Linked DNA regions of Homo sapiens: regions 1, 3, 4 and 5 are each linked to region 2. The links come from fine-mapping of genetic effects on gene expression. A gene starts in region 2. Each other region holds a variant in brackets. All regions are shown on one strand. Distances are between the middles of the regions.

Region 1 (5,107 bases), 200 kb before region 2:
TTTATCACTGGCTACCAGCATGTGAACAAGTCTTGCAGGAATAGCATAAGATTATGGCACACATTGATTTTCAGCTTTTGACTGTGTTTTCAATAATCAGATATAGGTGAAACTGTTTAAGTACAAGATAGAGGCCCAATTTGACAGACTTTGAACCCCAAGATCATTTTAAGAGTCAGGGACGGAATGGTCATTTGATAGATGGGATAAATATATCCTGGGGGATAAAACAAAGCTGTCTTTGATCCTCCTCTTTTTAGTTTGTTCCTGATACTTTACATGGCCATCTTTTCATATACCCATTGTTTACAGAATCAGAAGGGTAAGATGCTATTCTGTGCAGAGAATGATAAGAACTAGTACCTAATAACTGCTAGAAAGAAGGGGGCCGGGCGCAGTGGCTCACGCCTGTAATCCCAGCACTTTGGGAGGCTGAGGCGGGCAGCTCACCTGAGGGTGAGAGTTCGAGACCAGCCTGACCAACATGGAGAAGCCCCGTCTCTACTAAAAATACAAAATTAGCCAGGTGTGGTGGCGCATGCCTGTAATCCCAGCTACTCAGGAAGCTGAGGCAGGAGAATCACTTGAAACCAGGAAGCGGAGGTTGCGGTGAGCGGAGATCACACCATTGCACTCCAGCCGGGGCAACAAGAGTGAAACTCTGTCTCGAGAAAAAAAAAAAAAAAAAATAGAAAGTAGGGATATACACAAACTCTTCTAAAACCAAAGACATCATTTTTGGGGGATCAGACCCTGATATTTAACCAGAATCTAGCCAATAATTTTCTTTGATCAACTCATCCAACTGATACACAGGAAGGTTAGAAATTCTGAGGGCATTATTCTGATTTTTTGTGTGTGGCTATTTAAATCCGTGAGGTGGGCATTTAATACTTACTTTAAAATTTGCTCAGCATTTGTGGGACGCCACTTTTACTCATTTGTTGGGGAGTGAGCATCCTTCTATTCTTGTTCCTTTTGAGGTGATTCTTAGCCCTGCCTGTGAGCACTGGCTGAGCCTAGAGTTGGAGGAAGGTGGGCTGTGTTTACCGTCATTCAGGCTCTTGAGGGGACAATCAGCCCTCCTGTGGCCTAGGTCTTGGTGGCCAGCAAGCGAGCATCCCCCAGGCATGCTCCTCAGGTTTGTACCCTTTGGTAGCCACACCATGCTTCCCCCACGGCTGGAGCAGAAAGGCTCTAGTGATGTGGTATTGCCTGAGAGTAAATGGCCCATCCCTCCCCATAGAGGAGCAGCTTTCAACATTTTACAAGTGGCAGAACAACTCCCCCACTTCTTTTTCTTCTTCTTCTTAATAAAGAAATGTCGTGAGCAAGTCCAGGACATACAACAGATAAAAGTGGAGCTTCTCTGGTTGAAGCCAGGATAATGGGATGGGAGTGGAGCCGGGAGGGGACAGAGTCCCACCCTCTGGCTCCCCTTGCTTTGTGAAGAGACCAGAGGAGAGCTACTTTACAGAACTGTACTTTGGATCCTTGATGAGAAACAGCTCTTACTGCAGGATACTGCTAAGGACATTGTTCTCCTCCTATACAGCACCCTTTCTAGAAAGACCATAGAATAAATTTCTCATGGGTCTCACTTCCAAAAAATCCTCGTCATTTTCCTCCTTTTCTTTCTTCCTTTTTTTTTTTTTGGAGTGCTTGATTTATTTTTCTTGTATTATGGAAGCCATGGCTTACTGCCCCTTTTAGCATCGCACAGAGCTGCCCTTCTGGCAGTTTCTCAGGAATGCCCTGCACATATTTTATGAATTATAGAAATTAAATCAGGAATCCAGGTATAATTTCTACTTTATTTCCCTATTGTCCCAAATTTCACTTTGTTTTTATTAAATCTTCTATCCTATACATGTATGTACACTACCTCAAATCCTTTCTGGAACAAAACAGGATAAAAATAAACACATGAATGTGTAACCATAATTAAAAACCAACAAACCATCAAATAGCCTTCTGCAGCCACCATGTGACTGTGCTTACCTCGTTGGGGTGGAATCCATCCACGGGCTCGATGAGCTGCCAGGGCTGTC[C/A]GCCTCTCTTCTGCCACTCCTGTATGACTGCAGGGCACATAACGAGAGGGTTACAGACACACTTGCACAAGCAACGGCCAATATCCAAGGACAAGGACGTGAGAACTGCCCATGCCCTCCCGGGCCCATGTTGACCAAGCCACGGCTGCCTCTGAGCTGCTCTCTTGCACTGGGGGATTTCTGAACAGAAATGATCTTCCCGCTGTGTGTGTGCTTTTTCTAACTCAGGAAGGGAATACGTGAGAGCATTGGATGAATGTGGTTTGTGTAGCAGGGAGGGCAGTAGGAAAAGGTGAGCTCTAAAATAGTCAACATCTATTTCAGTACATGTCATTTTTTGGTGGTGCAGTAGGATGGTATTACAGTAGGGAAAAATCCAACATTTTGTTAACATCCCCTTTCATGGGTTGCCATTTGCAGACTCTGCCTGCATGTGTCAAGCACTTGCCTTTAAAAATCATACAGTATGTCAGGAATATAATTACATAAAATTATCTCATCGCCACATTTGGAGGGAGTATGGCTGCAGAAAAAATATTACGAGCCCCAGAATGATGAAAAGCAATGAAACTGTCCTTCAACAGGGATGAGAGACCAAGAATGTCAGTTGCTCCAAGGCAACAGCACAATTAACTCTACGTCATTCCATCATACAGTCAGTAAGAACTCCTCAAGGAAACTTCAAATCCCTAGGAAGCCTCCGGAGAGCAGCATCTGAGCCAGCTGCTCCCGGCAAAGCTACGCCCTCACTTGCCCAGCGTCCAGTGAGGGGGGCAGGCACAACTAAGATTCCTCCCGTTCTTTACTCTTCATTCCCCAGAAAACTCAAGAACATAGGTCTGTGACCTGTTTCTCCCCTTCTCATCCCAAAGGAAGGACGGAAATTCTGTCAGGGGCTTTGATTGGACAAGACGGGCTGGACTTCCCAGGGCTGGGTCAATACAAGGCTGCTTTTACAATTAGTCCTAATATCCCAGCATGGCATCCCCACTTACTACTCAACCTCCATTCCCCAGGGGCTGAGGATAATGCTGCCCTTCTCAAAGCTCAGGAAAAAAATTCATACTGATGGTTTGGAGTCCTACACACTGAATCGCCAGCCCCTGTTAGCTTATTCTCTGGCAGAAAGACTGCCCCTGAGACACAGCATCATATTATGCTTCTGGGTTTTACTAGAGGCTGTTGGAAGAAATAGCTATTGGTAAGTGGCCTCTGCATTTCTTGAAAACTCAAATTGAGGACACTGTTCACTGTGTTATATGGTGTCCGCCACACAGAGTCTCCAGGGAGAAGTTGTGGCGTGCTGGTAAATAGCACTTCTATCTGAAGGAATGGTAGGTACCTGCTCTTCTAATAGGAAGCTCAGAGCTGCATCGATGCTTAAACAGCACTCACTCTCATGAAAGTTTATTTGTTCTGCCAAGCCAGCATGCAGCTTTCAACAATTTCTTTCTTGCCCTTGGCCATAGTGTCTTGTAAAGGCACAGTTTTGGGGAAGCTTGCCTGGCTCAGTCTTCAGTTTGCCTGGCCTGTTTTGCCTGTTTTTTTTTTTTTTTTTTTTGGCATGTCCTTGGAATGCAACCTTCTTCTTGAGGTTCAATTCTAGCTGCCTCACATTTCCCTCTGGACTTGACACTCTGAAGCTCCTGTGGGTTCCAGACTGCCCTGCTGGCTGCGATGCTGGCCCTGCCTGCTCATGAATGCTATCCAGCCCATCCCCTGCCATTCCCAATCTGAACATCCAACAAATTGCCATCAATGGAGAACCAGCCATCTGGAAAGATTTCTTCAAATGCAGAGAGCCAGGATCACCACCACTGAGCCCTCTCAGTTCTCTTTGTCCTTTTATGGTCTTTGTCCCATCTCTCCTTGCAGTCCCACAGGAGTCTCTCAAACAAAAATCAGCAACGATGCAGAAAGGCCCGGGCCAGGTGAAATGTCAGCCTCCCCATCCCCTCCGTGACTTCAGAGATGACATCATCTCCATTCTACTTGTGCTCCTTTTTGCTTCACCAAAGTTCTTGATTAACGTTTTGTCCCTTTTCCCACTTTTCCCTTTATTTTTATTTGGGTTTCACCTTATGTTGTACAGATGCTAACAGAAGAAAGAAAAGAAAGAATGAAAGACAATCGCAACAGGGTGTTGCACGGACTGAATGTTTGTGTCCCTTTCAAATTCCTGTGTTGAAACCCTAATCCGCAGTATGATGGCATAGGTAATTATTCCGTGAAGATGGAGCCCCCATCATGGAATTCATGCCCATGAATTCACACCCAGCCAGGTGCGGTGGCTCACACCTGTAATCCCAGCACTTTGGGAGGCCTAGGAGGGTTGATCACAAGGTCAGGCATTCGAGACCAGCCTGGCCAACATAGTGAAACCCCGTCTCTACTAAAAATACAAAAGAAAACCTAAAAAAAAAAAAAACAAAAAAAAATTAGCCAGGTGTGGTGGTGGGCACCTGTAATCCCAGCTACTCGAGAGGCTGAGGCAGGAGAATCGCCTGAACATGGGAGGCAGAGATTGTAGTGAGCCAAGATTGCGCCACTGCACTTCAGCCCGGGAGACAGTGTGAGACTCTGTCTCGACAATAAGTAAATTAAAAGATAAATAAATCAAATAAAATGCACCCCAGAGGGCTCGCTCACTCTTTTTTTTTTTTAAACCATGTGAGGATATGATGAGAAGTTGGCAGTCGGCAACACGGAAGGGGACCCTCACCAGAACCTGACCATGCTGGCATCCTGATTTTAAACTTTTAGCCTCCGGAACTGTGAGAAATAAATTTTTGTTGTTTATAAGCCACCCAGTTCATGGTATTTTATTACAGCATTCTGAGATAAGACAGTTATTAAAAAATTCCCAGGTATGCTAATAACAGCAGGCCAATGGGAATTGAGCCTCATCAAGACTTCAGACAGAGCCTACTAAAAAGTTGTGAAGAGTTGGATGAATAAGACATGAGGCAGAGTCCTCTTGTAATAAATAGATGCACAGCAAACCATGGACCTGACCTGGACTCTCCTGGGGTCATCTGATGCAGTGGTGGTAGGAA
Region 2 (5,107 bases):
AGTGAAGGTCCAAGGATCTCAGCCCTGACAACTTGCCCAAACTCAAACATTTAGTTTGCAATGAGCCCAGAAGTAAAACTGATTTCATCTGAGCTTTTCTCAAGTGTATTTCCATTTGATGGGCAGTAGGGTTTTGTTTTGAGAAAAATGAAAAGGTGGCAAATAGTTATTTAAGGAAACCAAATACTGGGGGAGGATGATCTCCCAGGCATGGTTCAAAGGACCACACACCTCTGCCTTCAGGTCTCTGGAAAATAGTCTTGGGGAATCTGGGTCTTAATTAAAACAAGACTTTGGAGGCTGGGCGCGGTGGCTCATGCCTGTAATCCCAGCACTTTGGGAGCCAAGGGGGGCGGATCACGAGGTCAGGAGTTCGAGACCAGTGTGGCCAACATAGGGAAACCCCATCTCTACTAAAAATACAAAAAATTAGCTGGGTGTGGTGGTGTGCATCTGTAATCCCAGCTACTCCGAAGGCTGAGGCAGGAGAATTGTGTGAACCAGGGAGGCAGAGGTTGCAGTGAGCTGAGACTGCACCATTGTACTCCAGCCCAGGTGACAGTGCGATAATCCATCTCAGAAAAAAAAAAAAAAAAAAAAAAAAAAGGACTTTGGAAGTAGAGATGCATCTCCTAACATGTACAATGACCTGAGGCCATGATTTTGAGGAAGTAGGACAAATTCAGATATATTTCCATATTGTCTCCAGAAACAATTCCTAAGTGTCAGAATCTGTGTCCAGATTTTCCATTTGCAGCATGTAGCCATCAGACTTATCCTAGAGTTATTTTCCTGGCTTCTCAAGCTAGGATTGTATTTTGAGGTCTGCTCATTGAACAATTACTTACTACTCAGAGTTCTGAGTCTATGTGGCTCCATGGACTGTACCATCTAAATGCCACCACTATTATGAGAATTCCCATGTTATGAGAGCTACAATGTGAATATCAAAGATCTTACCTTACTTCCTGCTCTCATCCAAAAAAAACAAACAAAAAAAACCTCTTGGAAATAAAACACTTCATTAACAGATGAGCCAAGAAGCCATATCAACGCTCAGCGTCTCCAGGTGATCGCCAAATCTGGATTCTCTGAGAGACGGAAGGAAGCTAAGATGGTTGAGTCCTTACTGTGTGCACATGCCACAGATTTACATGCATGGTCACAATTTCCATGGTATCCCTATGAGATGGGTCTCACTCACTTCAGTTCACCAATAAGGACACAGAAGCATGGAGAGGGTTAAGTACATTGCTCCAGGTTTCCACAGCCAGTAGGAAATGGGAGAGAAGGGTAGGAGGAGGGCAGTGATTCAAACTCAGATGTGTTTATATGAGGTCAAAGCCCATGAAAAGCAGTAAAAATTTCAGACTAAAATAGCCTGAAATAATAGTTACCTATACAAGAAGAAAAAATTCCAATCGCCAATGAGGTGGAAGAGTTTTATGCCCAATTTAAACTAGTATGCTTTTTATTCACATAGATGTATGTAGTGTCAATGTCTACTCTTAGACTCCACATTTCTCTGTGTCAGTGAGGTTACTGGTGCCTTACCTGGAATCTTACAATTCTTGATTTAATAAAATATGTGATTTATTACGCAAGCAAAGTACTGGATCCCATTGTTATGTCTACATAGAAAATACAAAAATATTTATTTGCATACCTACACAGGTGTGCCCATTCGAGAGGCTGGGCCTGGACTGGTCATCGTTGGCTGGAGAGGCCGAGGACTGAAGAGACAGGAGCAAGAATAGAGGCGCCACCGTAAGGATTTTCCAGGGGGACTGCATCTCCGAGCTATGCACCCCAAGTGATCACCCGGCTTTGGAAGCTCCCAACTGAGGGATGCTGGAGCTGAGGCTGCAGAATCAATTGATCTCTCTCTCCTTCTCTTCCTCACTCTCTTTGACACACACACCCCACCCTCTCACATACACACTTTTCAATAAGTGTGAAGTGAATAAAAGCACACATAAACACTCACAGACCCACAGCTTGCTCTTGTTGGACCCTGAGAGAGCCACACACAAAGAGCTGGAGGGAGTCTGTGGTGTGCGGTTCTGCTGAGGTAAAGACTGCAGGATAAAGAAAACCCAAGTTGCACAGTGGCACAACTTCCGTGCTCCCTGGCTCAGTGAAGTTAGTGTGCATAAACCCCGTGAGCCTCGAGGCTTGCCGGAACTGATCTGTTGGGTTGGTTAGGAGGCCCTTCCCCTTTCATTCTTGCAAAACAAAACAAAACGATACTAAAGCCAAAACTGAGAAGAAAAAAGAAAAAAAAAACTAATCCACAAGCACACAACCCTTTAACAATTTGATCAGCAGCACCCACATATTGTAGAAATTCTAATTGGTTACATTCAGAACTTACTTAGTCTTGTTTTCAACAGCTTTATATGGTAAGGTTGTGATCCTTATTTTGTTGTAAAAGGATATTCTGGTCAAATAATATCTTTCCTCTGGAGAAATTGGGTTATTCCTTGAAGGGTCAAGGCCTTTTATTTGGTGTGCAGAAAATAAACAGTACAGAAAATAATGGGCAGTTAGCATGGTGGGATTTTAGACCTAATGAGAAAAAACATGGGTTAGAATTAATCAATTCACAGTTGCTAGGCTGTGCACAATGCATCTTTTTTTTCTCCAGAATTTCGAAGTGCATTTTGTGGATGATTTGTTAAGAGACTGATTTTCTGCTCTGAAGAATAGAACTGAACACTGTCTTTCTGAGGGAAAAAAAAAATCGGAACCAGATCATAGATAAAAGACATATAATCTAAATGTTTCTCTCTAAAATAAGATAAAACAAAATCATATGCCATTCTCAGTCAAGATAAGAGGACAGGGCCAAAGTACCACAGTCTAGGTAAGTGTAGGAGGTCATGAGATTCTGTTTCTCTCTGCTTAGGCTCTGAGGGAGCTTATTACAAATTTTGAAATATTATAGAAGCTATCTAAATTGTTAGCAATTAAAAAAAATAGCATTTGGAGTAGCAGGCAAAGTTTTAGAGTAGCATCCTTTCCAGGATGTAGGAAATACCAGTTTTTATGGTTGGAAGATTTCTTGTGCAGTCATTAGTCTTACAAGCACCGATGGGGCTACAATTCCCAAACCTGCTGCAGAGATAGCACAAGTCAGAGTGTTTCCCTAATTACACTTCCAGCCCAATACTGAGGATATCGTTAGGCGTCCATGGGCCTGTGACTTCCTCTGACTCTAAGGTGCTGCTGCTTCAGTTCTTCACTCTGTGACTAAGGGGAGCTCTGGGGTCACTAGGACCACCACAGGGGTGAGGCCTAGAGAAGTTCCAGAGACTTCCAAGGGAGGCTAAATAAAGGACTGATTGATTAGGAACTCAGATTGTGAAGACAGAAAGGCTCATGCTTACGTCTCATGTCTACTGTTTATTCTGAGTAATATATTAGACCAGTGATGTAACTTTCCCCCCTTCAGTGTCTTGTTTTTGTTGTTGTTGTTGTTGTTTGTTTGTTTTTTGAGACAGGGCCTTGCTTTTTCATCCAGGCTGGAGTGCAGTGGTGTGATCACAGCTCACTGCAGTGTTGACCTCCTGGGTTCAAGTGATCTTCCCACCTCAGCCTCCCAAGTAGCTCATTTCTATTGGGATAATGGTAATATCCGCTCCAATGCGCTGCTGGAAGCACTCGAATACATGATGTATCCAAACAACAAAGCAGCATGGCTGGCAAGAAGTAAGTGCTTAGTGCATCTGTCTATGACTCTAGCAGGAGTGTGATGAAACCTGCACCCCAGACCAGCTTCAAGAGAATTCCAAGACGCCCATGGTAGTTGTAGGCCATCATGTCATACATGGGAAATGGTGAGGACAGGAAAAGGGAGGATTTATTGAATACCTTCCAGCTGTGCTACAGCACTCCAGGAGTGTGTGGTCTAGTTTGTCTAATCCATAAATGGGTGAGGACTCTCCTGAGGGCTTCTGGAAGAGCATTTGACACAGGCTTTGGGCCTCTTGAGGCTCTCCTGGTCTCAATGTATAGCTGCGAGCAGGTCTGGAAACTCTTAGAGTGAGAGGGATTTCTTGGTATGCCGGAAATGCAAGTTTTGTGCCCTTCATCGCATGTATGTGGGCCAGGCAGTGCCATTCACAACCATCCCAGGGATGGTCGGCTCTGAAACTCTCTAGTGTGCTCAGGCTTCGGGGCTGGTCACAGTGGGAGTCGCTGACTTAGCTGTGCAGTATTGAGCAAGCCCCTTCCTGTTTCCAGAGGTGACAGTCCTCAGCTAGAAAAGGGAGGTGAGACTATCTACTTCGTAGGAATATATCATGGTAAAACCTGACACATAGGTTTTCAGTAATGGAAGGATTTTTCATGCTTGGAGGGTGAGTTCTTACTGGGCATGATCAAAGGAAGAATGCAGAAATCAGAAAGTGATTTCGCCAGCAGAAGCTGGAACAAAGTGCACGTGTGCACAGACCACTGAACAAAACATCCCTCTCCGTCACCAGGATGGAGTGGACCCTCCCATTTGCACAGTTGTCCTTCACACTGGCTGGTATCATTGCCCCTGACAGGGCTGCCTTTGCTCATCAAGTACTGAGTGCAAATGACTTGGGATCTTTGCACAGCTTGCCAAAAGGCCCTGGACCTACCTGTGGTTTAGAACAACTAGTCAGGCCCTGGAGAATGTTCCTGCAGGACCCCACTGTCAGATGTTCCAATTTTGAATCATCTCGAAATCTGCTCTTGAAAATGAGATTTCTTCCCTGAAGCACTTTGTTACTGATTTCACTCAAACAGCTCTGATTCAAACCACTGCTTTCCCCTGTGCCATGGAAGGCTAAGGCTTTGTGATCCCCAAGTGTTGCACCTGTGGTCTGCTTGTTCAGTATGAATATGCTTCCTGAATATTTTTTGACCACATTGGCCTCAACCACCTCATCCACAGCAAGTTCCTTAATCAGAAAAAAAAAAAAAAAAAAAAGAGGTGGGTGATGGGAGATCCTGTAAAAGCTGGCACTGTCACCAACACGTGTCTCGTCTTAGACTTTCTCCTCTCTCTAAGGCCCAGGTCCATGCTGCCCTGTTACTCCTGGCTGCCCAGGACTGTGTACAGCAGTCCTCAGTT
Region 3 (5,107 bases), 180 kb before region 2:
CAATTCTTCATGAATTACTTCTGCCCTTTCTGCCTTTGGATCTGATTCGGCTCACCTCTGGATAATGACCTTTAGATACTGCACCTAGGGGCTCTTGCCTTTATCAACCCTGACCCATGTTCCATGATGGCATTTTAGGCACATTTCTATATGGTTTGAACCATATATACATTGAACTGTATATACATTGATGTTATTAAAGAGTAAAAGAATCTTCAAACTGATACCGAGAGGATGATATCTGTTGTGCAAATTATCCCAGAGAAAGGTTCCATCTGGTAAGCCATACAAAATAACATGGCTGCCATTGGGCAGGTGGGAATTTAGATGCTTCAGAGTCTGCATGACGTTGGAGTAGAGTTTCTCAGGAGTGGTCATGGCTGGGACTGGGTCACTCTTCCTGTTGGTGGAATAAACAGAAAATATCTTGGTTGATTGTAAGGATAGATGCATGCAAGTTGCACGCAAATACAAGATACATCACACACACATACGCACACACACACACACAGTGTGGTGGTCATTGGAGCTATTTGCAAAATATTCCTGGATTTCCACCTTTCTGACACATAGGCTGTACTTACTGACTCCCTTGCGGTTGAGTGGACTATGTGACTAGTTCTAACCAATGAGTGGTGAGCTGAAGTGACATGTGTCATATTTGGTGATGTGACACCTTCTAGAATGCTCCTTTTCTTTGCATGGGTATAGGCAATGTTCTAGATAGCTGCTTCACCAATCTGAGTCCTGGAACAGAGTCCCATGGTGATCTCTGATGGACAAGTAGTGTGAGAGAGACGTAAACATTTGTTGCTTTATGCTACTAAGATTTTAGGGGCTGTTTGTTCCTTTGTTCCTGTAGCATAAACTCGCTGGCCTGACTTACACACAGTTTTTGAAATGAAAGGGGTCTGGTATTACTTATGATTTATTTGACACTTCGAGGTCTATAACTTGGTCTTTAAAACTTTTCACATGTATAACAGTTAGAAAACAGAATCTTACTGATTAAGTTATATTATACGTCCACACTGTATCTTGCTCTTTATCCTTCCATTTCTACACTGGATTTGGACTTGCATGCATTTCCTGATGGATTTCTATTCCAGGCTATACCCTGCAACAGCATTTCACAACAATTCCAGCCCGCATTATTGTCTTTATATAGTAGTGCTTGTGCTCTATAGAGGGTATTTGAATTTTTAAATTATATTTTCTCTTCTTATTTCATAAAAGTTAGTAAAATAAAAAAAGAAAGTACTGAAAGTAGTTATGAGAGACACAGGCCTAAAATCAAAGCATGTCAGACAAAGGTGAAGCTCCTAAGTGAGCTGAAAGTGACGAATCTTTACCCTCAATCAGACATTTATTGAATTTAAGCTGATTGACTTATATTCATTTGGTTTGGAAAAGAAGTAAGGAATGTACAAAATACTACAAGACATCATTTGAAGTTATGTTAAAATTGCACTCATTGGTTGATTTAAAGTTATGTTTGGGTGCTATGCTCACCACCTGGGTGATGAGGTAATTTGTACTCCAAACCTCAGCGTCGTACAATAATATATCCATGCAATGAACTGGCACATGTACCCCCATATCTAAAATACAAGTTGAAATTATTTTAAAAAGCTATGTTTAAAAGGCAAGGGGTGCTAAAGTATTTTTGGCATTAATATAAGTTTATTATTGTTCATTTCTTTGTACAATTGACTTTTGCACACACCTTCAGGAACACAACAAATTTGGATTCGGATCCTAACCTGCATTAACTTGGGAGTAGAATACAGAATTTTCTAGAGTTTTCATCTACTCTTTACACTCTAACTGCCTGTCTTTACCCTAAATGGAATAATGCTACAGTGTTACTTTCTCTTTTGTGTACTTAAAATTCCAGTTTCCCTAATGATAGTGGGTTAAATAGTGTCCCTAAAAATGTGACATTACTTGAAAATAGGGTCTTCATGGTTGTCATTAGTTAAGATGAGGTCATGTTGGATTAGTGTGGGCCTTAAATTCAATGACTGAATCCTTATAAGAAGAGGAGAGGACACACAGACATACACCAGGAGGAAGGCCATGTGAAGACAGAAGCAGACACTGGGGTTATGGCTGCCACAAGCCAAAGAGTGCTGAGGATCGCTGGAAGCCACCAGAAGTGGGAAGACAAAAGGAAGGATTTTTCCCTGGAGCTTTCAGAGGGAGCATGGCCCCACGGACACCTTGATCTTGGACTTTAAGCATCCAGAACTGAGATGGAATACATGTCTGCGTTTTGAGTCATCCAGTTTTGGTACTTTGTTATGGCAGCTCCAGGGAACTTAATACAGATTGTGAACCAGATAAAATAAGTCCATCACTCAGAGGCTGGACCCAGGGCATAAGTGATATGGGAAGAGGGGGCAGAAAGGGGCCCCCAGGGATCCATAATTCTCATTTTTAAGGGAGCTCATAAATGAATATTGGCACTGCCTTTTCGGAGGGCAATTTTTCAAAATGTATCCAAATTTGAAGCTGGCTTAACTTTTGACCTTGGAATTTCACTTTCAAGAAGTTATCCTATAGTAACATTTCCACCAATGTGCAAAAATGTACATACGAATATTGTAATGTTGCTTGGTATAGTGTACCACTGGAAAAAGATAAAAGCCTAAATACATAAATTATGGTACACCCATGCAATAGAACTCTATATAGCCATTAGGAATATAATAACTAGATATCGTTGGTTGCACAACATTGTGAACTGGAAATGCCACTGAATTTTTGCTTTAGAATGGTTAGTCTTACATTATGTGAATTTCACCTGAATAAAAAAAAAGAAGTAATTTGTATGTATTAATATAGAAAGATGGCTAAAAAGTATTAAAGTATTGTTGACTACAACAATACTTTTGGTGCCATGGGGGTAGCCAGTAGGGTGGCAGTTATGGTTGGTGTATGTGCTTCTAAACTATGTCATGGATCGCTAGAGTCTCTTAAGGGGGGAGAGAAAAAGATGTCTAATTTTACAAACCCTCAGGGTATAGAACTGCATGCTAATTTCATGTTTTCCATTGTCATGAAAAAATTACACTATTTTAAAAATAAAAATCTTCCTACCTGA[T/C]AAAAACCAGCTATGACGATTTGCGACTAGGTTGCCTACCTACTAGAGCAGAAGCGTGGGGAGGGGCTTTGACTTGATTCCCATATGCACAGAAGCAGCACTGAAGAACCTGCCCCAAGTATCTAGGTTCTATATTCACTGTGTGTTTGAAGTGTAACAGCAAGGGTGAAATGAAAGGCAAGTTGGGTGTCTATATCCTTTCTTCTGGCACTGGTAAAGCTGGCAAATACTGCCTATTCACTTTTGCCTTGCCACACTTTTTTTTTTCCTGCTGATACAGCCACGCTTTGGCACAAAGCAATTATGCTGAGCTAATGTTCTCCAACCACATAAGGGCAAGATGAGTTAAGATGGACAAAGTCTCCCCAAATCCACACTGAATAATTTTTTTTTTCGGTTAGAGGCACAGCCCTGATGCTAAACGAAGAATCTGAGCTAATTTGTATTTATGAAAGGGCACCCACAAATTAAGCAAGCATAATCAACATGGCTAATTGCTAAGTGAAATCAAAATATAAGCCTTGGTGTTGCTAATGGAACATTCTCCAGTTATCTTTGTTCCACCTTGTACAACTACATAATTTACTTTTAATTTGCATAGCAAAATCAACCAACTCTTAGCTCAGGTAAGGGCAAGGGAGTCTATGTGATTCATGGGACGATCACCCCTCCCAGATGCCATAGAAGGTGGCTTTTGACTTCTGTCCCTGAAAAGTTTTCTTTTCTTTTTCTTTTTTCTTTCTTTCTTTCTTTTTTTTTTTTTTTTTTGAGATGGAGTCTCACTCTGTTGCCCAGGCTGGAGTGCAGTGGTGCGATCTCGCTCACTGCAACCTCTGCCTCCCGGGTTCAAGTGATTCTCCTGCCCCAGCCTCCCAAGTAGCTAGGACTACAGATGAGCACCACCACACCCAGCTAATTTTTCTATTTTTGGTAGAGACAGGGTTTTACCATGTTGGCCAGGATGGTCTCAATCTCTTGACCTCGTGATCTGCCTGCCTCAGCCTCCCAAAATGCTGGGATTACAGGCATAAGCCACTGCGCCCGGCCCCCTGAAAATTTTTCAATGCCATTTTGATCTGTGTACTTTTTCCCCTCTGGTGATGTTTGGGGGAGACTTTGTGTTAGTATTCTGGAGACCAAAGAACCCTAGTGGTTGAGAACTATCTCCTAGGTCTCTCTGGTGTCTGCCAAAGGACGAATGGGCTGAGCTGAAGGTGTCTAACCCTTTTCAACCCAGGTGTCCCAGGCACCTGCCACCCCGGATTTGTCTGCCGACTCCAGGGTCCCAGCACCCCTTCTCACACACCAGCGAGCTCACCCCAGACACTCAGATGCATAGGTGAGAGATCGAGAGTGCTCAGCTAACAGAGAAGATGTGAAAACCAGCCTGTGGCACAGGGGCCACACTGGGGAAAATAATGAGAGAGAAACTGGTGCTCACTGACATGCTCTCACACATGTCAGAAACAAATGGCCGGGCTGGGAACAGATGAAGAGCCTCACTCCTGAAGGTGGCTCTGAAGCCTGTCCCGCCCTAATGAATTGTGTCTGATCAGGCAAAATAAGCCTGATCATTTCATTACCCTGGCAGGTAAGCCAGCCAGATTTCACCTGGCTGGTGCTAGAGAGAGGTGTCCCTTCCAAGGAAGAAACTGATCAGCCTGTGCAGAAAACCAGCTTCCTGGAACCATAGCTAAAGCCCAGATCACTGTAGTGATCAAGTGCTCACACCTCACTCACAGCTAGCATTTGTGTTTTTGAAACACCCAGGTAAGAGGGTTAGCCCTTTTCTTCATGCCAGCCAGTTGCAATCACATTGTTGGGCTCCCATCCAATCCCCTTGAAGAGAAATCTTTTTTTTTTTTTTAAATAGAGACAGGGTCTCGCTCTATCACCCAGGCTGGAGGGCAGTGGTATGATCACAGCTCACTGCAGGGTTGAACTCCTGGGCTCAAGCTATCCTCCCACTTTAGCCTCCTGAGTAGCTGGGGAGAAGAGGCA
Region 4 (5,107 bases), 150 kb before region 2:
AACAAATGGTTTTCAAAACCACTGAGTAAATAATAATACAGTTGGTAGGTGGAATTAGCGACACTGTGTCAGTGGTACCCTGATGCTGGACATTTATGAAGCCCTGTGTTTCTCATTCAGTCTTCAGCAGCCCCATGAAGCTCAGGTATGTACCGTTCCCATCCCTGTGTGCAAGGTATGACATATCTGGTCAGTCACACACCAGGTTTTGTGATGAATTCCAAAATGTCACATGGCATAATTTAAATAACTGGCTTTAATGGAGAAAAGCTGGGTTTGCAAAAGATGAGAAGGTAGCTATCTCCAGCACTGCCTTATCCCACTGAGTTTGGGTGCAGCCTCTCCCCCAGGAGGATGGGGAAGATGGCCCATTCAAGGTGGTTTGTTGTCTGGGCAACCCTGAATGAGATCCAGGGTCACCTTTGGCAACTGTGCTCAATGAACCATGATCCCCATTTTACAGATGCAGAAACAGGCAAGAGACATTCAATGATTGGCCCAAGCCACACACTAATTCCAGGACCCAAATTCAAAACCAGTCTACTTTATACCCCAAGGAAAAGAGACAATTATATGAGGCAATCAGGAGAGGAAGGGCTCTGCTCTCTGTTTTCAGGGCCCTATTTTCCATCTTAGAGAAGGACCAGAGGAGCCAGCCAGCTCTGCAGTTCTTGGGTCCTTCCCTCTTCCATGTGCTGGCTGCCTCCCAACTCAGGCCATTTTGGTATCGAGGAAGTTCTGAGAGCCACTGCAAGCCCCTCCTCTGTTGATTGCAAAAAAGATTTGGCAGCACTCTTGCCATTCCTAACCCCTGCACCAGAGAATCATTCCCTGGATTAAAGATGACTTCTCCATTCTCCATTTTAAAATGCGTTATAGGGTCAGGCACAGTCACACGCCTGTAACCCCAGCGTTTTGGGAGGCCGAGGCTGGTGGATCACCAGAGGTCAGGAGTTTGAGACCAGTCTGGCCAACATGGTGAAACCCTGTCTCTACTAAAAATACAAAAAATAGCTGAGCGTGGTGGCATGTGCCTGTAATCCCAGCTACTTGGGAGGCTGAGGTAGGGGGATTGCTTGAACCCAGGAGGTGGAGGTTGCAGTGAGCTGAGATCGCACCACTGCACTCCAGCCTGGGCGACAGAGCGAGACTCTGTCTCAAAAAAATAAAAAAATGCGTTATAATCACTGACTGGGGTTCATGACAGAGTTATGTATAGACGTTTTTGAGATCTCTTACATAAGGATCAGGATGAAAATAGGAGCTGTTTCTTTAATTCTTACTACCCAATTTTTAAGAAACACTTTACTATTCTATTCAACTCTTCCCTTTTTCCCCTTTCTCTCTTGCTGGTTCTGAAAAATCAGTGTAGCCCCATAAATATGCAGAAAGTGAAAAGCTGACTTTTCCTATATCTAATAAAAACCTTGGAGAGTAATTGAAGTAATTTAGCATGGGTAGTCAGGTTACATTGCTGCGTAATATCAAAAGAAAGTCCATAGCAAGGAAATACAAGAGAAAATAGGAAGAGGGGCTGGAGAGTAAAACCAGAACATTAAATAATGAGTAACTGAGAAACTAAAAAAATATCTTTTTACTATTACAGTCTTAGAAAAATAGTCGAGGATAGTAATACTAGACAAAGTATACATTTTATGCATTTCTAAGGACTGCAAATTCAAAGAAAAGGAAGAAAATATCCCCTATTCCCCGGCATCTATTCATTAGACAAAAGTCTGACAAAAGCCACGGCCTTCGAGCACATTTTGACACGATTAGGCTCTCTTCCTGTCTCCTGTCTCCCCTTTTATCTTTGCAATCTGAATTTTAAAGGAGTGTTGTCAAGACAGGAGATCGCAAAAGGACAACCATTTACTATCAGGTGTCCTAGTTATACTTTTTGGATTATCTTACTCTGGTCTTTATGATTTTATGAAAGATCACTACATTTATTGTGGGTAGAAAAGTGATGTCGACTTTGCACACCTGGGTGTTGTGAAAGAGAAATGCTGGGTTAGAGTCACAAGTAACAAAGAGCAGCCTGCAGCCTGCATTTCTGGCAGAATCCTATCACTCAGTGTCTTACCCTAACCTCATACCTTTGGCTATGGAACCTTGGACAAGCCCTGTTCTACTCCTAGACTCAGTTTCTGTCGAGTTTTTTAAAGGTTATTTCTGTATACAAATAAAATCATCAGGAAACAGAAAAGCGGAAAAAAATGAAAGCGATCACTCGTAATTTATCAAACATAATGATTTTCTATATTTTCTACCAATCTTTCCTACGTATACCTTTTTTTTCCCTTTCTTTGAAAAATGTGGTAGAAACTAAACTGTATGATTGAATTTTATATCCTGATTTTTCTTTCGGCAGTGTTTTGTCTTTCCAAATAAAAATATATTTGACTTTTAGCCATCATTTTCTAGGGCTGCATGATATTCCTCACAGATG[A/ATT]TTTTTTTTTTGTGCTTTGTTTTTTATAATCTTCATTGACAGAGGGTATTTGACAGTGTTGGGGGGCTGTTTCAGTATGTCACTAAAGGAAAAAGAAAGTGCAGCCACACACCTGATGTTCACTTTGTATCTGTGATGAGTCACATGGCCAGATTTGACTGTAACTGTCCATTAACTATTGATAGTGTTCAACTTGCAGAGGGATGAGGCCGATCTCTTTCTGCAGATCATCTGGGATCATAGCCCAATGACTGTATTATCTTTGTTGGTATCTGAGTGGAGTGAGACAACGTGGGTAGAAGTGTCTCCTCTGTAACTTACTATCTGTGTGGCTGAGGAAGAGAGTCTTGGTTTCTCCATGCCTCCATTTCCCCAGCTGCTACGGTGTGAATATTATTTTAATGCCCAATTCTGAGAAGTATATTTTAACGCATTTGGTATTGAGTTGAATGCTGCAATCAATGGGAACATTGTAATTTTTCCTTCCTTTTCCCTCCCTCAACACTCCCTAGAGCTATTACAATCAATAGTATTAGTACTGAAGAAATTTAATAATACTTGCCTTACAATGTCTGTTGTTGAAAGGATTAACAGAAATAAACATAAAGTGTTCTTAGCACTTGGTAAGAGCTCAGTTAATGGCAGCAATTATTTTATTAGTAAAAAAAATCTATATTGTTCTTAGAAGAGGAGAGCATTTATTCTGTATAGAATATTTATTATAAGAAATACATTATTTGTAGGTCACATACTTAGTTTAAACGCTTGTTGCTTGGAAAATTCCTCAACATCTTTTGTTAATTAGAGATAGCACAGGGATGGCAAATAGGTTTAACTTCATGTGCCAAGCCTAATTTGTTGATGATGATTGTCAGACGTGCTGTGTTTCGAGAACTGCTGAGGCAGAATCTGAGCATAGCAGACAAGAGTGCCAAGGCTGATTAGCAATATCTTTCCCAGGCTTAGGAAGACAGAGTGGCAACACATACACTGTTTACCATCTCTGCATTATGGTGTTACAAAACATTCCTTGGCAATTCATTAGGCATTAGCCAGGCCATGGCTTATCAATCAGAAGTTTCATCAGAATCTTGTGGCAATAGACCGCCTCCAGGTCCAAGGTGGAAGATTGAAACCCACACAGGTGAAACTGAAAACTCCAACCCCAGCAGAAACGTGGGAGACTTTGCACCATCAGAGAGGGCAGAGCTTTTGCGATGACCTTAATTTTTCTCAGCTCTTGTTCTGCTAATGCTCATTTAGGTCTTGCCTCCTGAGCCTCAAACATCCTGTGCCTTGGCCTTGCTAGAACTTTGCTGTTGGGTGAATGATCTGCTCTCTTGGTCAACCCCTTGACTGCAGCTTGTTTTTGTTCTCCTTTGCTGTGGGTAAATGGCTTTAAGCACAGGGCCCTTCTTTCAGAAAGGGCAATGGCATTGGAAGGGAGACCGTTCATTTTATTCTGTGATCCTTGTTATCTGAATCTCAGCTTTTGAGGTACTTATGAAATAAACTCAATCATTACAGGAACATTGATGAAGGCTTAAATGGAAAGTTACGTACCATTTCTTGAAATATTCTGGTAGTCCCTGTGATTACAGTGGTTTCTTTTCCATAAGCGAAGGTAAATAGATTTTTCTTTAATTCTGAAACAAATATATATGTATATATTTAAGGTCAGGATACTCACATAAAGAAGTTTAAACAAACCATGTTTACATCACGCTTTTAAAAAAATATGGTTAAAATGAACTCAAAAAATCAAATCTCTGCTGACAAGTTTTCTCTGAACTGTGAATGTAATATTGGCAGTTGTTATGAGAAGCAGTTCTATGAAATTGAGTTGTATGGGTGTCGTAAGAATACTGTTGAAGACATAAAACTTTTTCTTTTGTACAAAGACCTCCAGAGTCATCCCTTTCAAATGCTTTTTACCAAGAGCTGCTGTACATTTCTTGAGCAATTGCTCACCTTTACCGACTCTGTTATTTTGAACCTGATCATGTTGCCTTTCTTTTTTTTTTTTTTTTTGGTTGCTATGAAGCTGTGGTTGACACTATTATTGTCCTTCAGCTTTATTCTCCCTTCATGCACTACAATAGAATTTTTGCTACAATAGAATTTATAGAATTTTTAGCAAGACCCATGTCTGTCCAGAATGAGGATTGCGTTTTCCAGCTTCTCTTGCAGCTAGGAGTGGCACATCACTAAGTTCTGGGTGAGATGAGATGGGATCAGAACTATCCAGTGGCAATTTCTGGTAACGCTTCTTAGGAAATGATTGAATGGTGATTCTGGTTCCTTCTTTGTACCCTTTCTCCAGTCTCCTGCCCAGAATAGGAAAGCTGCCATCTTAAACTATGGGAATAAGGTTGACGTTGAGAAGGCAGAGGGGTGAGCTGGAAGGAGCCTGGATCCCTGAGAACTGGGTGGAGTTGAGCTCCCATATCAATTCCAGACTGCACATTTTCTAAACCTTTCTGTGTGAGAGAAATAAACTCATATATGTTGAATCTCTGTTCCTTGAATCTAATACTAATAAACACAGAGCTTACGGAAAAATTTGACACCAGTATCAGGCTATAATTATATATATTTTAACTCATTTTCTTGGCTCCTTTTTGTCTCATCTTTGATTTTTCATTTTCTTTCGCT
Region 5 (5,107 bases), 130 kb before region 2:
TGTTATATGAATTGCTTTGGAAAGTGATCTGAACATGAAGTACAATTTTTAATCTTAATTTTTTTTACTTTTTTATTTTTACTTTTTTAAAGACAGGGTCTTGTTCTGTTGCCCAGGCTGGAGTACAGTGGCGTGATCATAGCTCACAGCAATCTCAGCAATCTCAAACTCCTGGGCTCAAGCAATCTTCCCGTCTCAGCCTCCTGAGTAGCTAAGGACTACAAGTACATGCCACCATGCCAGGCTAATTAAAAAAAAATATTTTTTTAGAGATGAGGTCTTGCTATGTTGCTCAAGCTGATCTCAAACTCCTGGCCTCCAGTAATCTTTTCACCTCAGATGCCCAGTAGCTATTTTTAATCTTTTAAAAATACTTTTTTCTTCCTATTTACAGTTATACTGCTCTATTGCCAAGCTCTTAACCCCCACAGAGATTTTTTTTTTCTGCTTTTGACCTACTCAATCTCTTCCTGAATCACACTGAAGAAAAATCCCAGTATATTTTTTAAGGGATATCACTTATTGAATTTTCTGAAGCCCAAGAGTCAAGAAAACAGTTTTTGTTAACATCAACTCAACTAAAAGAACTAAAGGTTTGTAAAACTAAGGGGTTATGTTTGTCATTTAATGCATGCACATAATTTCAATTAAAGTTATCTATGAAGGGGATAATAAATTTTGAGAGGACAAAGAGCATAAACAAAGAATGAAAGGGAAGGAGCCATTTCCTCTCCTGATGCTTTCACAAGGCACATTTTCCAAAGGACGCTGTTGACACCCATAGCAGAAGGCTGATCATGATGGTAGGAAGCGCATTCTGGAGATCCAGTTGAATAGAGAAATCCGCCAATTCTGTGGATAAGCATTTGGATTCAAAGGGCATGTGCCCAAAATGCCCATGGGAGCTGTATACACCTCTCAGAAGTGCTGCTTCTGGGTCAACATTCTTTTCATTTTCCTGATTCCACAAATGAGGACCTCCATCATATGCTAATCTCTTTGATATTTTTATATACTTTATAACTTTCTATTCCTTTAATAAGGAGATTGGCCTAGCACAAATTATCTGTGAATATAATTTATACAATGGTATATGGATACTTTAGCTGTAACTACTGCTGGGAGGGACATAGCAAATTATGATCCCACAGATGCAGTGTCATGCTGCCTCTGTTTCTGCTTAATGGGGGAATCCATTGCAACTCAGATTCCAAACAGAGAATTTCCTTTTCCATTAAAAGGAGTTGGTATATTCTTCTCCACTCCAGCTGAGTGGCAGCAAACACAGGCACAGTACACAGAAACAGCTGGCAAAAAGAGCATTCTGAGAGGAACAGCTAGGGAGCTTGGGGTCCCACAAACACATAGAAAGAAAAGTTCCTGCAGGGGAGGTGAACAACCAGCTGTGGTGTGTGCCTCGTTAGAAATACAACAGGTAAGGACAGGACTTAGAGTCAACACTAAGGAAGTTGCTTAAGCAGACTATGCGTTTTTTGTAAGCAGTAATAGAGAACCGAATATAAAAAGGTACTAGGTCAATAAAGACTAGCTCAGGATAGAGATGGTTTTCATATAAGCCACACCTAGATGGTCACTTACTTTGTGAGATGGTGTCAGAATTTCTCTGCATAATGCTTATAAGAGTTAGAAACCATTCATGTCTGAAGGCTCTCAACTTTTCCTCTTCCCCTTACCCCATTGCCATGCTTTGATGGAAGATCCTGTCTGCCTGCTGGGCACTGATCAGGATGATGGGTAAAAACTGCTGCAGGATTGAAGAGCTAGTGGGATTTTACATTGATAAGGGAGTAAACCCCTGGTGGGAGGACAGAACAGATGCAGAAAGGAAAAGGGAGCTTTCCCTCTCATCCCCCAATAGAAACTCAAAATGACTGAACAGAGTCTGTTTGGGAGAAGGAGCTAAGTGTGGGTCAAGTTTTGGGGAAGTTTAGATTTAGGAAATACAGAGCAACTACTGGTGTGTGCGAGCTGTAAGC[A/G]GAAAGAGATGAGGAAACATGTTTTTATCTGTTTGCTGGGCATGGTGAATGGATTCCTCTTTCATTCCTTGAGTGACTCCAGTAAAGATTTAAACTACTTGGAAATTAATTTTAAATATCGGATCGGTATTTCTTTTATGGCAACTTCATGGGGCCAAAAGGTAGTTGGGATTTATAGAGTCAATATGTAAAAATTTAAGCTTTCATTAAAGGTACAGTAAACTGTGTTCATTGTTCATACCTAATTAATTCTTTTTGTTATTGTCATAAAAGCCTTGATTGAGAGAAAATTCCAGATACTTTTATTGAGAAATGACTAGACTGGGTGGAGGGCATTTAAACATATATATTTTTTTATTTTCTGATGTTGAAATTGGGGGGATGACCAAGGTTCTCTCTTCTATAAACCTGCTTTGGCTGGGTTATCTCTGGATGTGTTCCAGGTAAAGACAACAGAGGCTGTAGCAGAGGGAAGATGGGACTGAGGCTAGGACTCAGAAAGTCCCAGATGTCTGTGCTTATTGGGACCCTAAGGAGGCATATGATGGGTCACTGAAATAGTGCAGGCCACACCTCTACATGGGGAGGACTTCTCTTGGTTCTTAGTCATTTCTCCATCCCATAGCTATGCTCTCACACAGAGGGACAATGGTTAGAGTGAGCCATATTCCCACACAAAGAATAAAAACAACACAAAGTTTGAGAGGCAAGAACATATCTTTGTTATGATATGACACAAGGTTCCATGAAAACAGACCCTACCACTCTTGGCTGGGCAACCTTGGTCAAGATTCTTATTCTGTCTATTTGCCCTTGGATCTCTCAACTGCAAATGCAGAGAACAATACCCACTACCTCACAAGGAGGTTAAATGAGAGAATATCTATACAACACTCAGTAAATGCTTGGCATATAGTTACTTGTTACTTCTCAAAGGTTACTTCTTACTATCCCTATTAGTAAGTATTTTAGTATTTTTACACTAATGACAAGGACTAGCCTTTTTTAAAATAACATGATTAAGTTTGAAAAGGTATAACTACACTGGAAAACACATCTCCTTGGCTTTCCCTATATTGGCAGATTATTTCTATGTAAATATGAGTACGCTTCCCTGAAGGTTAGTTCCCTTCCTAGTTTCTTCTATGCCCCTTTTATGACCCCAGTCTCCCATGTGTTACCCACCCAAAGGAAGTGACTGTTGATCACTTCCATGAACTCTTTTTCCTCGGAGCCCCGTGGCTCTGTAGGAGACCTGTCATTAGTATATCTTCCTTGCATTACCATTATTTGTTCACTTGTCTCATCTGCCTTAATTGCAATTGACTACAAAGATGGGACAAGCCCTATCTACCTTTAAATGGACACCTGTAACATCTGTGCCTGATTAGGTGGTTAAGTATTTAAGAAATATTTTTAAAGCAGATGAATAAAAATCATCAAATAAATTATTCATGGCACACAATGTTCTTTGTTCATCAGAATAATTGCTTGTTAAAATGATTAATGTCTGTCCTTTGGGGGCATTCCTGTTCCTTACAGATTTGGGTAAATCACACCCCATGCACACTTGCCCTCCTCACAGTTCTCATGGCTTATCTCATGGTGCTTTCCAGCCTTCTGCCATTTTTGCCTGAGTCAGAGAGGGGCTTCCTAGCTGGTTCTGTCCTGTCTTTAGACCTAAAAGCAAAGCTCTACCCTTTCTTCTTTTTTACACATGGAAGCCATTCATTTGCCATCTTCCTTGTGCCTATTAACTGTCATAAATGTTTAGGAGATGTTGGGAGAGAAATTGCCTCTCATATCTGTGACATTCTCCCATCCAAGTACTAACCAGGCCCTGCTTACCTTCCAGAGATCAGACAAGATCTGGTGTGTTCAGGGTGGGATGGCCATAGACTCATATCTGTGGTTTACTACCATGTTAGGGACACTTGCCAAGTTTCACCAGCATCACAGGTGTCCCTGCCAAGTGTGGGCCCTGGGAAGCAGACCCCAGGCCTTAACACCCAGGCATATGTAGTGAATTGGGTTTGTGTGTCATTCAAACTCACCAGGCCTGGTCTCTACCTACAAATCTGGGGCATTAAAGCCAGGATGATTCTAGGACTTTGAGAAGTGCCAATCAGCTTTGGCCATTATCTTTACAAATTTATTTCTGAGAACAAATAAGTAAACTTTGTTTTTCCTTGAATCAGAAAATTTCAGTGATGTGTTTAGTATTTTCCATCAGAGGTAAACTATGGAACTCCACCCCCACCCTGCCCATAGCAGGAATATGCTTTTCTTGCCAGTGCTGCTAAAATACAATTTGCATTACATCCTACTGTATGGTGGATGAACTCAAATTCATGTTCTAGAAGCAGTTCCTAATAATTCGCATTTCAACATCTTGGTAGCAACCCCCATCTCTTGTTCTTTCCTTACACAGAGGTATTGAAATGTCTGAGGGTGCACAAAGACACTTACCCAACAGTGGAGTCCAGAAATCCTGTAGCACCAGAGAGTTGGGGCCAGTCAAGCTCGTTGGTAAGGGCTGTTGGTAGATTGATGAAAGAGTTCTAAGGAAAACAATAAAGTAGCAATTATCAAAATGGTCATTTATTTTCTAAAGGTAGTAAGAAAATTCATGGCCTGAGTGTTGCTCTCTGTGTGTCTGTTTCCCACTCTCAATCTCTCGCTTTAAGGGCTTTTGGTATTCAAGGCAGATGTCTCTAACCTTCAACTTCATCAGGGAAGTCACAATGATCAGCACCACCCTTGACCTGGCTTCCGCTCAGCTCTTGTGAAACATGCAGAACATTTGGCATCTCAAACACTTGGGAGGGATGCTTCAGCAGACTAAACTTCCCATTCTTACATTTTCTGAGATTTTCTCCATTTTGCAGTTTAGGCCATCAGAAAGTCAATCATCTGAAAAGTAATTAATCTGAAAAATAATGCCTAATCCCTCAGAAAAAAATGCCTTCCCTGGGTTCAAAGCTATGGCCTTAAGGCATTAAGGTGGTGCCCTCTGACCTTCTTGGGGGTCTCAGACATTTTTGAGAATCTAATTGTGGTTCCTTTCCCCACAAAAATGCACGTGTATTTAACCTGGCCTGTGATTTCAG

Evidence for each region.
Region 1: its variant is fine-mapped to the expression of AOAH in whole blood (TOPMed, PIP above 0.99).
Region 3: its variant is fine-mapped to the expression of AOAH in whole blood (TOPMed, PIP 0.99).
Region 4: its variant is fine-mapped to the expression of AOAH in whole blood (INTERVAL, PIP 0.95).
Region 5: its variant is fine-mapped to the expression of AOAH in whole blood (TOPMed, PIP above 0.99).

The regions. Positions count from the first base shown.
Region 1 is chr7:36,520,038-36,525,144 of GRCh38, forward strand. AOAH (acyloxyacyl hydrolase) reads right to left here. Exons shown (of 21, transcript NM_001637.4): 20 at 2,002-2,078. Among named protein-coding and RNA genes, the nearest start is that of AOAH-IT1, 78 kb to the right of the region's middle. The variant C/A (reference allele first, on the strand shown) is at 2,052.
Region 2 is chr7:36,722,356-36,727,462 of GRCh38, forward strand. AOAH (acyloxyacyl hydrolase) reads right to left here and starts at 2,139. Exons shown (of 21, transcript NM_001637.4): 1 at 1,667-2,139. The coding sequence starts at 1,793.
Region 3 is chr7:36,540,092-36,545,198 of GRCh38, forward strand. AOAH (acyloxyacyl hydrolase) reads right to left here. Exons shown (of 21, transcript NM_001637.4): 16 at 228-400. Among named protein-coding and RNA genes, the nearest start is that of AOAH-IT1, 57 kb to the right of the region's middle. The variant T/C (reference allele first, on the strand shown) is at 3,107.
Region 4 is chr7:36,572,559-36,577,665 of GRCh38, forward strand. It overlaps AOAH (acyloxyacyl hydrolase), which reads right to left. Exons shown (of 21, transcript NM_001637.4): 13 at 4,016-4,098. Among named protein-coding and RNA genes, the nearest start is that of AOAH-IT1, 25 kb to the right of the region's middle. The variant A/ATT (reference allele first, on the strand shown) is at 2,453.
Region 5 is chr7:36,589,873-36,594,979 of GRCh38, forward strand. It overlaps AOAH (acyloxyacyl hydrolase), which reads right to left. Exons shown (of 21, transcript NM_001637.4): 12 at 4,467-4,558. Among named protein-coding and RNA genes, the nearest start is that of AOAH-IT1, 7.7 kb to the right of the region's middle. The variant A/G (reference allele first, on the strand shown) is at 1,998.